2 separate regions of the Homo sapiens genome follow, and region 1 is linked to region 2. The links come from fine-mapping of genetic effects on gene expression. A gene starts in region 2. The other region holds a variant in brackets. All regions are shown on one strand. Distances are from middle to middle.

Region 1 (8,521 bases), 140 kb before region 2:
GGATCCTGTGCGACTGGAAGAACCAGCCATGACAGGTTTTAGGTAGCTGCCCTCTTTCTCTCCGAAAGTCTCGCCTTTTCCAGTGCTCTGCCAGTTCTGTATACCCAAGAGGAAGCTGCAGTTATGGCGGTGAGCAACATCTGTCTTTTTGAATCCTCTTTTTAGGAAAGGGTCCTTTGGAGCAGATGCAGTAGTGGGGACAGGCCTGGAGAGGCGCCAGAGAGCAAGAAGCTGTCCAGGCGCTGGCACAGCAAATATTGGAACCGCCAATTTTCCTGAATCCCAGGAGTGAGTGGGTTTCCCCCGCAGACAGTCCCCGGCGTCGCTGAAATGTGTTGATGAAACAGCAGCAGCGGCAGTATTGCTGACGTCAGTTGAGCACTTCCTGTGTGCCAGGCCATGGGCTACTCATTCTACTGGGCTCTCCCGTGGAATCCTCACCTTGCACAGAGAGCACAAATGCTATTTTCAGCCCTCTTTTTAGAAACAAGGAAACTAAGGCTTTGAGAAATTTAGAAATTTGGTCAAACTCAAGCTAGAAAGAGGCAGATCTGGCTTTGAATCCAGGTGTGTCTGACTCCGGAGCTTTTGCCTTCATGAGGGTTCAGGGTGCTTTCCTCTTTGTGCAAAGGTGGGTAATGGAGCCCCATCACCAGAGGGCTTCAGTCATGAGTAGCCTCAGTGGTGGCTTGTGCTGGTGATGCTGGTGACTTTACCTGCAAGTAACTGTGCCTCATCAACATGTAAAATGTCAGGAAAAGCCTCTGCCCCTGAGCCAGGTGCCGGGAAGTGGCTCCCCTGAGTCCCCACTTAAGCCCTTTGATGTGCCTCATCCTCCCCCTTCCCTGCCTCTAGAGATCGGCAGGTGTCCCAGGAAGCATGTGCCCAGGCCGGATGCTGCTGGAGCCATAGGACAGCCCTCTAGGAAGAGGAAGGAGCGGAGGAAGAGAAGTCTGTGGAAGGAGGCCCCTCCCGACTTGCCTCCCACTCCCCGCTAGCCACTGGGGGCGTGATACTGAATTGTTGCCTGGTCAGTGGCACCGCCATGTCGTGACCCTACGGTAGCCTACTGTAGGAAAGTCTGAACATAGGAACGGCGGTGCGGGGCCCTCTGTAAATACACCCTGTACAGGAATGTGAGCTGTGGAGCATCAGATGTGCAAAAGTCGGAGACCAACTGGATCTGAAAGGCTCTCTGTCCCTCAAAGGAGGGACTCTTCAACTGTGATTTGAATAAAGATGGCAGCACAATCATGGATCTGGCCATAATTACGCCAGACCATTGTGGGGAACAGGATGCACGCTGGGCATTATTAAGCTGCACCATGAAAATCAGGTTCTGGAAATGAACAGGTTTAAGGAAACGCTGTGTTGAGGTCCCGCAGTTCTCTAAACTACAGGACTCCTTAGGGCCTCCAGTGTGCTTGTGGGGCGATTGAAATGCCCACCATGGAAATCAGCCTCATACCATGTTAATCCACAGACGCACAAACCACACTGCAAAACAGTCGTGGTCATGTGGATTTTTACTGAGGATTTCTTGGGGCGACCAACAGAGGAGGAAGTGATGTCACCCAGCTTGCATCTAAACTTCCTAAATCCTCTGAAGTTTCCTGGCTGCCCCCCAGCCCCCGTCCCCCTTTCCCCACCAGAGTTCTTCTCCCAGTGGCAACTGAGACATCTGTTCTCATAGCCAAGCTCCTTCTCCACTGTCTACCTCCAGGATGGGCCTCAGCATTCATCCCTCATCAGAAAAACTCAAGGCCCCTTCGCCAAACTCTTCTATATTCCTCCAAAAGCCCTGGGGACTTTCAGATAACCCTGAAACCTTCAGTCTTTCCAAAGAAAAAGCTGGCATTGTCTTGGAACCCAGGGGACCAGCGTCCTCAGAAACTACCTTGGGAAATTATACCCTGGAGACATTGTAGGAGGAGATGGCCAGAGGCTAAAGCCTGTTAGACTGTAGCAGGCAGGACACACTTGCCCAGCAGTGCTGACTGATCCTCCTGCCTTCTAGAGAGCTGGGTTGAGGAAGATCCCAGGATGAAGTCTGGGCGCAGTCTGCATGTCCTGATTGAAGAATGATGTCAGCCAGGCTGTGAATGAGGAGGCGTTGGTAGCCAGAGGGCCAGGAATCTGCCATGCCTGGTCTACAGCTTAGTCTAGGAAACAGCCCAGAATTGGGGCTGAACGGCTGCAGTGTGATCCTTGCTCTGCTCCAGACTCACGGTGTATTGTCCTAATGACAGTTCACCTCTGTGAGCCTCACTTACTTCCAAGTGGCGCAGACACCCCAGAACCCTTATCTCATAGAGAAATGGGGACGACCCGCTGACCTAGTAGCTAATGGCCTGAAGGAGTAGACTTGCCTTCACATAGATCAAATGTGCCATAAGATAGAAGCATTGCTACATCAACAGAGCATGCTCATCAGGCTCTTGGCAGGGTATGTGTGGCACACTCAATCCAGTTAACTCGAGGATGTTTGGATACGGGGACTGTTTACAAAGGTATGAGCAGGGTATCAGGAAGACCAGGGCTGATATGAGCTCTAAGCCTGCAGGGGTAAGAGGGGAAAGCAGGTCCAGGGACCCAGAAACAGAGAGTCCCTTGGAGAGGGCTGCTTCGAAAGGAGCTATGGCCGTTAGGTTGAGGAACACAGCCAGCTCACAGTGACCCCGTGGAAGGGAGCCAGAGATTTCATGTCTGGCCTCTCTCCTCCCTCCCTCTAGGCCCTGCACTGGCTGAGCCCACCGAGAAGTCAAAGAGCCCCTGGTTGTAGCTCCCTTGGCAGAGAGCAGGGTAGAAATGTACTCTCTTCCAGTTCTGGTGGCCAGAAGTTCAAAATCAAGGTGTTGGCAGGGCCACAGTCCCTCTGGATGCTCCAGGCATTCCTTGGCTGACGTCTGCATCACTCCAGTCTCCACCTCTGTCTTCACATCACCCTCTCCTCTCCTCTACCTGTGTGTCTCTCCTATCTGTGTCTCCTGCAAAGACGCTTGCCACTGGATTTATAACTGGGTAACCCAGGACGATCTCCTCATCTCCAAATCCTTAATTACATCTGCAGAGATTCTTTTCCCACATAACATTCACAGGCTCCAGGGATTTGACATGGATATATCTTTTGGGGGGCCACGGGTCAATCCCCTGCACCAGCCTTCCACATCTAACCTCTGTCCCTGATGTGTTGAGATGGGAGGGAACCTTCTGTCTCCCAATGGCCTCTCGGAACGAGGGCCCCTTAGCACTGTGAGCCAGGGCACCTTTGCATATCTGCTTTAAGTAGATACTGATCCTTCAGTAGGGGTGGCGTGGGG[C/G]TGCACATTTTACCTTGTGTCAAAAAATGATTCATATCATGGCCTGTGGCAAACACTGTGTCTTCTGAGAGCTCTGTTTCACATCTTTAAGATGAAATAGATCAAATGTCTGCAATAGGCCAGGTGAGGTGGCTCATGCCTGTAATCCCAGCACTTTGGGAGGCCGAGGTGGGTAGACTGCTTGAGCTCAGGAGTTTCAGACCAGCCTGGGCAACATAATGAAACCCTGTCTCTACAAAAAAATACAAAAATTAGCTGGGCATGGTGGCTCAAGCCTGTATAGTCCCAGCCACTGAGGAGGAGGCTGAGGTGAGAGGATGGCTTGAGCTGGGGAGGTGGAGGTTGCAGTGAGCTGAGATCGTGCCATTGCACTCCATCCCGGGCAAGAGTGAAACCCAGTCTCAAAAATGTATATATATATATCTACAGCAGTGTCTTCCTGTAGAATTCCACTGTGCTGTCACTCATGCTAGGGAAAGATGGCCATCTCTCTGGTAACTTTGTGCCCACCACTTCTGGCCCATGACACACTTGTCAGCACCTGGAGGTCAAGCTGAGAGCCACACTGGGTTTTCATCTCTGCCTTCAGTCCATCACAGAGGTGGCCCAAGGATGACAGTATGCATCTCTCACGTTGGACCAAAGGCCCACTGCCTAGGTGCCCTCCTGGGTGGTCTGAGGTGGCATTTACGCTCAGGCATCCTGGGTTAGCTCCGATTTCCAGCCAGGTGATTCTTGAATCCTTTTACGCAGCAAAATGTAACAGTGACAACCTGACACCTTTTCTAATTGTGTTTTAATTGAAAAGACTTGATTTGATTACAGAAGCCTACACTGTAGTTGAAGGGCTTCTTAAAACATGTATTAAATTGGAAAGATTGCAATGTTTCGCTGTGCAATTATGTAAACAGTCACATAAATGGGGCCGTTTACAGTCAGCAGGAATGCTTTTTCAGTAGCATGGTGGCAAACTGGCATCGTTGATCAGTGACAGGTGAATTTGTTTTTTTCAAGGACAAACACAAGTCAGTACCCCCCCGCCCAACATCAACGGAAACAGCTTTTTCATTTTCTCCTTTTGTGTACATTTTCCCTTGAAATCTGTTGTGATTTTAAGTAGTGTTTCTGTGTCCTCAGGTGTGTGTGAATTTCCCATCATTGTTAAGGAAAATAAAATGTGCCACATGGCTAAAATGTTTAGTTTTCTCAGCAGTAAAAAATGATCTAGGAATTCAAAAAAAAACCTTCAACTCCAGCTTTAAAATGGAATAGAACTACCTGAAAATTCCCTGCAGTTTTTGTTTTTTTGCGATGGAGTCTCTCTCTGTCGCCCAGGCTGGAGTGCAGTGGCGCGATCTCGGCTCACTGCAAGCTCCGCCTCCCGGGTTCACGCCATTCTCCTGCCTCAGCCTCCCAAGTAGCTGGGACTACAGGCGCCCACCACCACGCCCAGCTAATTTTTTGTATTTTTAGTAGAGACAGGGTTTCATAGTGTTAGCCAGGATGGTCTGGATCTCCTGACCTCGTGATCCACCAGCCTCGGCCTCCCAAAGTGCTGGGGTTACAGGCGTGAGCCACCGCGCCCGTCCAACATTCCCTGCGGTTTTAATGGAAGTGTCCATTAAATTTACTGGGGATAAAAGATAATTTACCTCCATCCCCACTATCCGTGCCTTCCCACAGGACGTGCAAGGCTCGCCTATCTTTTTTGAACTTCAAAATAAAAGAAACATTGATCAGAGCTGTCATTGAAACATTACTTCTGTTGTCCATCACTTGTTCAACCCTGGCCTCTTAGAAGGAAACAGGTCCCACAATCATTATTTTTCTCCCAGCCCCAAGAAAATAGGAGCTGCAAATGGGCTGGGAGATTATGTGCCTCCAGTGGTTTTGAAGGGAAGCATTTACTGAGGGGGAAAATTGTTTTAATCTTATAACAACCAGGGAGGAGAGTTTGTAAAAACACAGAACACCTACACATGCACTTGATTTTGTTGCGTAGGAACACGCAGGAACATTTCCTCCCACTAATGTTCCTGATGCCTCAGCGGAGGGATCTCGCTGTGGCTGGGGCTGGGGGCTGGGGGTAAAGGGAGAGGAAGGGGAGGTAGAGACCTGGAGTGGAGTTGGCCGAGAATCTCAGGGACTCGGGGAGGGTATACCCGCTACAGGATGAAGGTTCTCCGACCCCTTCTGGAAATGTGAGCCCCATAGGACGCTGCAAGCTTTGCTTTCCGAAGGCCCAACCCCTCAAATCGGGGAGCCTGGTGCCACCGCTGTTACAACTTCACGGCGGACCCAGCCTCAGTTCCCCTAACCATGGGTTCCCCTGGTTAACTGAACACGTTGGGGTGTTTGATGAATTTCGCATTTGCTGAACCAAACAGCCCACAAGCGAGCAGATTCGTCCCGTCGTCAGGTGAAAATAAGAATAATGAGTGGCTTAAGAAAATGCGTGCATCGTTTTTTTGGAGGGAGGAGGGAGGAAGGACAAGAGGGAGGGAGGGAAGCAAAGGCTATAAATGCGTATGTGCCTGTCGACCGTAGGGAGCTGCACAGAGGGGCCGTTGCAAGACAGTGCGTGATTTGTGAGTGGGGATGAGGAGGGGCTAAGGGGAGATTCTCACATTTTGCTTCTCCGTGTACTTAGGAGTTTGAATCTTTTACTGGGGGACCTAATAATGGCTTAATTGTGTTATTTTCAAAAGGGGGTGGTGGTAAGGGAGTGGACTTTAAACAGAAATGTCCAGATTTAGAGGAGAAAGTGACAAGTGGCCTATTTGTATGAAACATTATGAATGAACCGTGGTCACGCAGTCAGAGAAGACGGGAAGGGAGACTTGGTATTTACACCCTTCGTCAAGCTCACATCCCTTTGTCGTCTTTAAGAGAGTGTGCCTTGCACAAAGATGTGCCTCATTCAGAAGAGAAACAGCTGGTTTCTGGAAATACAGTTCACGCTCCGATCATTCCCAAGAGACACAGAACATATCATCCAAGAAGGGCCTTCTCTGGTGGAAGAGCGCATCTCCCAGGAACAAAAGGCCCACACAGAAGCCCCAGGCGGTGGGTGTTTTCCTGGAACCTTTGATTTAAAGGGGAGGGCGATTACACTGGGAGTGATTGTTTTTGTGCTTTATTAGAATGCCTGGATTCAGCTCAGGGGGTGCCTGCGGGGTTAGATACCGAAGCAGAAAGGCAGTACCTGGGTCCTTGCCCATGGGATCTTCCTCTTCCCCACAGTGTCTCTTGCCAGCCCCACTGTCTGGCTTTTCTCACCACTCTGCGTGGCCCCTGTGAGCTCCATGCCAGCGTGTTTGGGTACGTGTATATCTGCGTGTACGCATGTTGGCTCCCCAAGGAGTCGGCAGGCATCTTCCCGAATTCTCTCCGCACACCCTCTCGTCCCCTGCCTCGAGTGTACCTATGTTTTGCACACAGCATACCCTCAGAAAATACCAACTACCTGTCAGTTCCCTAATACGTGCGTGTGTGTGCACGCGTGCGCATGCCTCGTGGCGCCTGCGTCAGCTTTCATAAGGTAAGGCTGCAGTAACGAACAATCCTCATCTCCCGGTGGCTTACTCCAAACATGCTTTATTTCTTGCCCTGTTCTGTGGTCGTTGCCAGCTGGCTTGGGCCCTGTTCCACGGGTCTCCTTCGTTCGGGAACCCAGACTGAAAGGGTAACACCTGTCAGAGACATACAAAGGGAGAAGAGACACAGATCTGGCTGACCCAGGCCATGGCTCTTCAAACTTCTGTTCAGACTTGGCAGACCTCATCTGCTCATGTTCTGTGGCCCATGATACGGCCAAGCCCAACAGTGGGCAGGGAAGGATGTCCCTCCTGTGGGAAGGCCCTGCCAGGGAGAGGTAGGCAAGCCGTGATCGGGGCAGCCTGCCTCTGCTCAGTGGCCTTCTGGGATAAGCTGCCCCCTTCCTGTGGCCCCGGTGACTTTCCTGGTCAGTCTTTGCACTCACCCTGGCGTCTCCCACCATGCCTCCATTGTCTTTTTTTGTTCCTGTTGTTGTTCTAATTATAAAAGTAACACATTCTCATTGTAATGTATTTTAAACAAAGTGAAAGTGACCCTTTGTTACCTCTGCTAAGAACCTTCCATCCGGGAAGCAATCACTGTGACCCCTTGAAGGTGCATCCTCTCAAGTGTTCCCCTGCTCACAGAATCACATATGGTGCACGTGTATATAGATAAGATTTTAGGGAAATGGGATCTTCCTAGACATATGCACGCAGATACATGTTATTTTGTGGCCACATTTTGTGCTTAGCAGTGCATCACCAATATCTTCCTGCAGGGCTGCTTTCCTTATGGTGAGTGCACAGGAGTCCACGGGCCTGGGCAGCTCATGTTCACTGATTATTGTCCTACTCTGGGAGATTCAGTTTATTTCTAGATTTTTCAATGACAACCATGCCATAAAGAACACCCCATATACACTTGGTCGGGTCATTTTGTAAGCTGGACTCCCAGGATTGAATTGCTGGGTGAGCATGTTTTACATTTTGGTGGATGCTGCCATCTTGTTCTCCCAAAGGCCCGTGCCAGAGCTTATGCCCTCCCCAGGGTGGCTAGCAGGCCTGTTTCCATTCTACCCAGCCCACACATTTTTTTAAACTTTCATTTTGAAATGATTTTAGACTCACACAGAAGTTGCAAACATAGTACAGCCATTGGTTGTACACTTTCTGGACACAAAAAAGGGTATACTTGGTGTACCCTTCACCCAGCGTCCCCCAGAGATGGCTTCCCACCTAACCACAGGACAAAGATCAAAGCCAGGAGATTGCCTTTGGTACAATACTATTAAGTAAGCTTTATTTGGATTTTGCCAGATTTTACATGCGCTTTTTTTTTTCTTTTGGTGAATAGTTCTATGATATTTTATGACGTGTATAAATTTGCCACAAAGCTATTAAACTTACCACGTATTAGGTTTGAGTATAATAAATATGCTTTTTTTCTTTCTCTGTGCAATTTATTTTTGTGGTTGTTGGGTCCTTCTGAGCTATTGCGCTCGTGGGAATGCTTGAATTTAGATCCAGTGCAAGGCAGCTGTTCGTTTTTTCAGTGTGAGGTGACCAGATGCTAGGAACTCCCTTTCTCCAACTTCCCTGTGAACCCCCTCGGGATGGGGGCTCTTAACACTCAGGACAATCTCCTGCCCTTGGCAAGCATCA
Region 2 (8,000 bases):
GCATCAGAATTGCCTGGGTGCGTGTTCAGAACAGGTTCCTGGATCTGAGCCCTTTTTAACTGAGGCCGACTCTTGGAGAGGGGCACCAGAATCTGCATTTGTAGTGTATACCACATCGTGGTTCAACTGAAATTGGAGAAATACTAACCTGAGATTTTGTTGAAGTTCACACACAGATCACAGCCCGCCCTCTGCAGGTGTCCCCTTTGGGCTCCTTTAGGAAGAGGGCTTCCATGAGAAGGTGACCCCATACCTTGCCCTCTTGGTCAATGGGATTGGGGCTCCACCTGGCTTGGAGATGGCCCTTTTAACCCTCACAGGAAGGGCCAGGGGAGGAAAAAAATTGCAAGAAAGCGACACCAAGAACGGAGCTGACTGAGGAACCAACTGGAGGGTCTTCACTCTCTCCTTCCCCAGTGTACAAAACCAGTTTTCTGCAACATTCAGGAGCCAAATGAGGAAAAAGAATCAAGAATCTGACTCACAGCCCATCTGATCTGTTCAAAGCTGTCTTTTCCACCTGCTGAAATTCATTAAATCACTGGAGGCATGCATAATGAATGGAGAATGAGTGAACTTCCAATGCAACTTGGATTCACAAACCCATTATCATAGCCAATATGCAGATTTTAAACAGCATTTCACATTTCATTTGACCATGTCTTCTTTTTCGCATCGCCTGCTGCAGAATTCCCTACTAGAATGTGAAACAACGAACAAACCACAGAACTTAGAGTGTGCTGGTTAGTCACATAACTTAGTAGCAGGATTGTGTATCCAGGCACAAAGGTGTCTTTGCTAATGTTCTCTTGCTACCTGCCCTGCTTCAAACGCTAAATGGTATGGGTCTTTCTTTGTTGCCAGCCATATTCTACAAATAAGACTTTTCAATATAGTTATGAGTAATATAATTTTATGTACATATAATGTTAGAATATTGTACAGAATCTTGGTTTCTACGATGCGCTTTTCTTGTTTCAAAAAGAGGAAAATGCTTGATTTTTGTTGATGATACTTTTGTTACTGTCCTTAATTTTCCATAGTTTGGTTTCTTAATTGTGCTCACTAAGCATCGATCTGTGCTGATGCCAAGCTATGGACTATGTACGCAAGACCGAGCAATAGACAGAGGTGCCTAGGGTCCAAACACACTGAACGCACGTGGACCGCCTGGATCAGGAGCCTCATCAGACCCTTCTCCATGCACATCCTTCCCAAACAGTCACAGATTCCATTGAAAGGAGCAGATTCTATCAGTTCTTCTGTGCAGACTTTAAGAGCTGAACGTTCTGGTTCTGGAAGCCATGTGACTGCGCAGAACAACCTAAGAAACCCTTTGTGTCCTGAGGGGTCGTTGACCTCTCCTTCCGGGTCGGAGCAGTCACTCTGAGGGCAAAGCGTGGTCCACTGTGTGTGATGTTTTCAGGATGCTAGGGTCAAAGAAAGAAACCAAGTGGTACATAAGCCCAGCTTTTCTGCTGGGCTAAGTGTAAGTGTGAGTAACATGGTCAAGCCCCTCTTTTTTGGGCTAATGTAAAGCCTTTCCTGCCTTGCATTAATGCTATCTCCCTGTGTACTGTTTCTCTTAAATGAGCAGATAGAAATCTGCAGTGTTGGCAGATAGGTGATGGAGAGGATGATAATTTTATCTTCTGGCCACAGAGCTGCAGCCCCAGTTGTCAGAGTCCTTAAATGAAACCCCCAAATCCATCCCTCCTTCCCTACCCCCACTGGAATATTCTAGAATAAGAGCACTGGATAAGTACACTTGAACACATTTTTCTAACCTTAGAAAATACCTACAAGGCCTGTTGTCTTGACCCATTACTCAATTGTCCCTGGCATATTATCTGATCTTCACGTTTCTTGGAAGCAGAATCATCAAGGCTTTCCTTTGTAACTGCCCTTTCCGTACACAGCAGGCATGAATAAATGCTGAGTAACAGACAAGTTACAGACAGGAGGGGAAAGAGGAGGAACCATACAACTGTTTTTGCAAAATGATGGCTGAGTCCAGATTATAGAGGTTGCCTTACCCTTAGAATGTTATTTAGACCAAGTTTAGCTTTTAGAGTCCAGGTCTGGTTAATTGCCAGGGTAGCAAAGAATCGCATGCACCAATGTAAACAGGAGTCAGAATGCATTATTAGTCAAAGATCGAATTTCACATTGTAGAGATGTATAGCTGTGATTAAGCTGCATATGTATGCTGGGAAACGGCTTGAGTGGATGGCTAATATAAAAGTTGTTGGCCATAATGCCACACCTCTCATCTGCTTGAAATATGGACCAGTATTCTAAAATATCAGCTACTGGGGTCTCATTCACTACAAGATAAATTCAAACTTCACAGAACTTTGCAGCAGTTCACCACCAGACGGGACTGTGTCTGCAAACTCTCTTGTCTTCACAGACGCCTAATAAAGCAAAACTCTGAATCTCATGTGGCCCAGATTTTTTTTCCCCCCATCCTGGGTTTGCAAACTGCATGATGGACACGTCAGTACTGATCTCCCTCTCTACCCCATCTCAGGTGGTGGAGAGAGAGTTTCAGTTTTTTCCAGGTGCTGTAAGTTTTCTTAAGTTATTCTAACAAGACTAGGCCCTTTGTTTGCTGGGAACCAAGGCCCCATCGATGGGCACAGAGCCCCTTTTCTCTGGAAGAAAGTGGTCTAGCCAGAGGGAGGGCAGGTAAGCAGAGTGACCACTGCCAATGCCACTGCACCCCAGTGTAAGTCATTAAAACATGCAGAAGGCCTGGCTGGGCTCTTGCCCCTGGGCATCCCAGCCGTCACGTGAAACTGGCTGTGTCCAGAGCCTACACCTGAGTCGCCCTCCACAGTTGGCTCTGAAAGCTTCCTGATGGCCCGAGGTATGTTCTAAATGGGGTGATAAAAGAGAGGTATAAATGGTGGTCGGCTCCACCAGCCTTCATTTGCAGTTCAATTTTCAGAAAAGTAGAGGTAGGGAAGGCCGGGAGGTGCAGCAAACAAGCGTGTCCTGGAAGTAGCGCAGCTTCAGCGTCATTTTCTGTAAAGGGAGCAGCCAGCACATGCTGGTTCATAGGGCGGACATCTTGGTGGGTTTCAATTCAATGAGAGGAAGTCTGGGTGTCCCTCCAAGAGTGATTAGAAAGAAGGATGACTCACCTTCCCCAGGTGGACAGCCACTCCTCTCTGCCTTCACCTGTCCCGGCCACCTGAAAATCTGCCCCTCCTAACAGGAGACAGGGAGGGAGGGGCTGCCAGGCCCAGGAAGCTCCTGTATTGGAGGCGCCAGGGCCCCCAGGCCTCGCCTCCTCCCGCCCACTGCCGGCCCCGCCCCCTGTTCCCGCCCACCCGCTTCCCCGGCCAGACCTGCAGACCCAGGCGCCGCAGTGTCTACACCCGCAAAAACGCCCGCTTTGACTTAGAGCCCTCCGCATATCCTTCCCCTGGCTGGGGCAGCCAAGGCGCGGAGGACAGCTCCGAGGCCAGATGTTTACTGCGCAGATGCCCGACTTTACACCGGGGTCCGGGCTGTGCCGGGCGCTGGGGGAAGCGCCCACCTTCCAGGTGGGACCGCGGGAAGGGTGGGGGAGGGGCAGGCTGGCGGTGGTGGGGCCTTTGTGCTCCACCGGGTGAGCGCACAAAGGCCTGGTGGAAGGCAGGGATCCTGGGCGGCCGGGCAGAGGCCAAGTGGGCACCGGATAGCGCCAGCCCCGCCCAGGTGAGCGCTGAGGTGGGATTGGAAGAGGGTGGCTAGGAGGGGCCCTACTTTCTACCCACTCCTAGCCCCCTTTCTCAGGACACCGCCTTTCTTCCCACCCTCCTCCCTGCCCACCTCCTCCAGGCAGGCTTATACCCCAGCTGATGCTTTTGGGCAACATATCCTGTCCCTGAGAGTTTAGAGGTCATCTGTTCGCACCCCCTTTCACTCTGGAACCCTGAAACCAGTTACCTAACCTCTCTGTGCCTTATTTTTCACATTTATAAAATGGGGGTTCCAACAGGAACTCATTCTTAGGGAAGCTGTGGGGATTAAAGGAGAATGCGGTTCTGCTGCAACCACATGGGGATAGCCAGTGTTCCCTGTCTGTTGCCTTTTTAAATTGGGGAATGGGTATAATATAGCATTTATATCATGGGGCTGTTGAGAGGATTAAACAAGCGTGGAAAGCTTTCAGAAAAGTAAGCAGGTGGTCAGTATGGGTGGGACATGGTCTCACAGCCAGGTCTGTCTGACTCCAGGCCCAGTGCTTCCTCCCAGGAGTCAGGTACGTGATGCCAGGGGTTAGAGTGGCCTAGACGCGGCACAGTCCTCACTGCTGTCAGCCTGGCGGGGGCTGAACTGTCTTAACAATCCCCATCATTGCTGACTAAGCCATGACTGTGGCCCTCTCCTCCACCCTGAATCCTCTTCTTCCAGCCTCAAAGGCATTTCTTTAAAGAGATGAACTGGCTCAGCAGGGCAGGACTTGGCAAGGCCTCAGCCCACTTGGGGGGAATGACCAGCGATACCCAAAGAGGGAAGGTGTCTTATTGCAGAAACAGCATCCACATAAACTGATGTTTCAGTGGAGCCCCCTGAAGCAGAGGGTGGCCTCTGCTTACCCTCCTTGGACTCCATGTCTGCCTTTTGGGACTTCCTGATTCCTTCAAGCCAGAATTTCTTCTCCCTTGTTTGTGTGTGTGTGTGTGTGTGTGTGTGTGTGTGTGTGTGCATGTGTGTGCCGGCGGGTGGGGGGAGGCTTCTGAGCATTGCAGGATGTTCAGTAGCATCCCATCCCCCACTTCTGACAGCCAAATATGCCTCTGGACATTGCCAGATGTTCCAGGGGTAATGGTGGGGGCTGGCAAAAATCACCACTGCAACCTGATTTCACCTGGATCAAGAAGGAGGTCTGGGGGTGTGCGGGCCTCATCTCTCTCCTCACCTGAGGCTCATGAACCTAACACAGGGGCTTCTGGGCTTGCTCAGAAGCTTTGCATTCCCAGCCTCTATCATGTTTCACAGCCATAGTATGAGTACAGTTCACAATTGTTGGATGGCTGGAGGTCGGATGGAGGGGAGAGGAGACCCTGGTAGGTGTGATCTACACACTGTTATCCAAGTTAACATAAAAGGTGATGGGCCCTTGGTAATAGGTCATTGGTTTGTGACTGAAGCCAGCTGTGTCTCTGGCTTTGGGTAAGGTGGTAGTGCTGCCTCTCAGCCCCAACTCCTGGCAGTCATTCTTCCACTCCCAAGAGCTTGTGCACACTCAATAGTAATTCCTTAAGGCAGTGACTTTTGATGAGACCGTTTCATTCCCTCTTCCCTCCACTAACAGAGAGCGAAATCATGGAGCCTTCCAAGACCTTCATGAGAAACCTGCCAATCACACCAGGCTATAGCGGTAAGTGTGGACGTACCCTGCAGCTGTGCCTGGCAGGGGAACCCGGGTCCTGGTCACTGTCCCTGCCTTGACCCACTGTCTGTGTCTGTGCAGCCAACTGGACCAGTCTAGGCGCTCTAGCTTCTCAGACATGCATTGAGAGCATTCCATCGCTGAAGATGGCTGATGGCCGGGTTCTGAGGGGCAGAACTTAGACCACACGTCCCAGAACATGGCCTGGTATGCAGAGGAAGCACTTAATGCCTGTTGAATGAATTTGGACCAGGATAGACACAATGTGATGAGGATAGACACAATGTGATGAGGATAGACACATGAATAAGTAGAGGCCCTGTTCTCCCCAAGTTGGTTTTCTCAAGTCCTCCACAAAGGTTATTCTTGTGCTCCCATCCTTTCCTGCATCCCCTAAAGGAAGGCTGGCCAACTGCCCTGGTCTACCTGGGACTGCCTTTGTCCTGGGACTGCCTGGGACTTTCCTTAACACTGAAAATCTTGCATTTGGGAAACTCCTCAGTCCTTGGCAAACCAGGACGATTGGTTGCCCTACCTAGAGGCTATTCCTCCTCAGGCTTCTGGGCTACTGAGAACTTACTAAGTCATATCCCTGTGGGTGACAAACCCAGTGGTCCCCACAGACCCTTGGCTCTCCCATACAGCCGTTCTCAGGAGGAATAGTACTTGGGTGATATTCCAGGGTTGCCCAACCTCACTCTGGTCCTAATGGCTGGTTGAGAATAGGCTTTGGGTTCTGACAAGCTGAGGTTCGAATCTCTGTTTGGTCACTGTCGATGAGACTGTAAGTAACTTGCCTCTCTGTGGTAAGTACAACATTCTATAAAATGGATGTATTTGTTTTCTAGGACCACTGCAACAAATTACCACAAACTATGTGGTTTAAAGTGATGGAAATGCATTCCCTCACAGTTCTGAGGCCAGACGTCTGAAATCGAGGTGCCCGCAGGGCCATGCTCTTTCTGAAGGCGCTAGGGAAGGATCCCACCTTTGCTTCTTCCAGCTTCTGGTGGCCCCAGTGTTCTTGGCTTGTGGCAGCATCTCTCCAGTCACTCTCTTCATCCTCACACGGCATTTCCCCCTTTGTCTCTGTGTCACAAGTCTCTCTCTTCTTTCCTCTATAAGGACATCAGTCATCAGATTTAGGACCCACCCTAAATCCGGGATGATCTCATTTTTAGGCCCTTAACTTAATTACATCTGAGAAGTCCCTATTTGTAGATAAATGCACATTCACAGGTACCAGGGGTTAGGACTTGCATATATCTATTTGGAGGATACAGTTCAACCCACTACATGGGATACCATAAGATTGTTGTGAGGATTAAAGGAGCCAGCATACATAACCTATTTTAAATGTCTTGGTCCTTAGCGAGACTCGATAAAGGTAGTTCGTATGCTTATGTCTGTGCATATATGCACTAATATAAAACCTAGGCAGACCAAAGTCGGCCCTGATGGCAGGGAAACCACTGTGGCAAAGCCCCTAGGGTCTTCATAATGTTAGGATATCTTTTAATCATCCAAGGGTTGGGGAGTCTGGGCGATGCATGGAAGGCTTCCAACACTGTCAAGATTAGTTTAGTAATTAGGTTCTTCCAGAGGGGGTTATTGTAGGGCTCTGGGGGTGAGGATTGCTACTTTCAACTCTGAAGCCAGGTTTTGTTTTCCTGGAGACCATGGCAAAAATGTTGGGTTTCCATAAGGAGAGAGATTTATTTATTTATTTTGCAGTTTGAAACTAAGTTCTTAACCAGTTTTCCTCATTTGTTCTTCAAAAAAAAAAAAAATGGTTTTATTGTGACAATATTATAGTACTTAGGATTCAGCCTCCAGTTTAAGTAAATAGTTGTGTTTTACCCATACTAATTGTAATGATTATATGTTACTTGGTGGGAAATGGTGAAAAATTGTGCTAGGGGTGGGTCTTGCAGATAATGAATTTACCTTTTTGTGTAACAGGGCTCTACTTTTAATAAGCCTGCAATTTCCTGATGGTCCGGCAAGAAAGATCCCAAATTGCATTTGGGAAGTGTCGAGGAAAATAAGCTTTCTCTTTAAAAAGATGAATAATTTCAATTACTCCTTAGACTATCATTTTGGCCCATTAAATGCTTTCCCCATTTTCCGTCAGGCTGACATCAGGGGCTTTGCTATTCAAAGAGTATTACTGTCATCGCCTTTGTTGAAATGGGCCTTCCCTCCCCAGCTCCAAGGTCATTTTTTGTGGCCTTGGGAGGGCCCAGCCGCAGTGGAAACAACAGCACTGCTTGTATTAATGGCCTTTGGAAAAACGTAGTGCTGTTGGCTGAGGAAGAAATGCCAAAGGGTGGGCTGAAATGCTGGGGAGTTTAGGCGGGCTCTGAATTCCTTGCTGGCCAGTCTTGCTGAAGGCTGTGATTCCATTCGGCTCTTGCAGGCTTTGTGCCATTCCTCAGCTGCCAAGGAATGTCCAAGGAGGATGACATGAACCACTGTGTGAAAACCTTCCAGGAGAAAACACAGCGCTATAAAGAACAGCTGCGGGAATTGTGCTGCGCAGTGGCCACTGCCCCGAAACTGAAACCTGTCAACTCCGAGGAGACGGTCCTGCAGGCCCTGCACCAGTACA

What was found. PIP is the estimated chance that this variant, and not a neighbour inherited with it, causes the effect. A credible set is the group of variants that fine-mapping cannot tell apart.
Region 1: its variant is the best candidate, but not a certain one, in a credible set for the expression of SPMIP5 in anterior cingulate cortex (GTEx, PIP 0.85).

What each region holds. Positions count from the first base shown.
Region 1 is chr10:116,801,423-116,809,943 of GRCh38, reverse strand. It overlaps a transcript of HSPA12A not described here. Among named protein-coding and RNA genes, the nearest start is that of MIR9851, 22 kb to the left of the region's middle. The variant C/G (reference allele first, on the strand shown) is at 3,321.
Region 2 is chr10:116,665,635-116,673,634 of GRCh38, reverse strand. It overlaps SPMIP5 (sperm microtubule inner protein 5), which reads left to right and starts at 3,669. Exons shown (of 6, transcript NM_001350931.2): 1 at 3,669-3,708; 2 at 5,312-5,377; 3 at 7,809-8,000. The coding sequence starts at 5,323. HSPA12A (heat shock protein family A (Hsp70) member 12A) reads left to right here. Exons shown (of 12, transcript NM_025015.3): 12 at 1-2,443. HSPA12A-AS1 (HSPA12A antisense RNA 1) reads right to left here and starts at 3,580. Exons shown (of 3, transcript NR_187551.1): 1 at 3,357-3,580; 2 at 3,150-3,241; 3 at 897-1,430.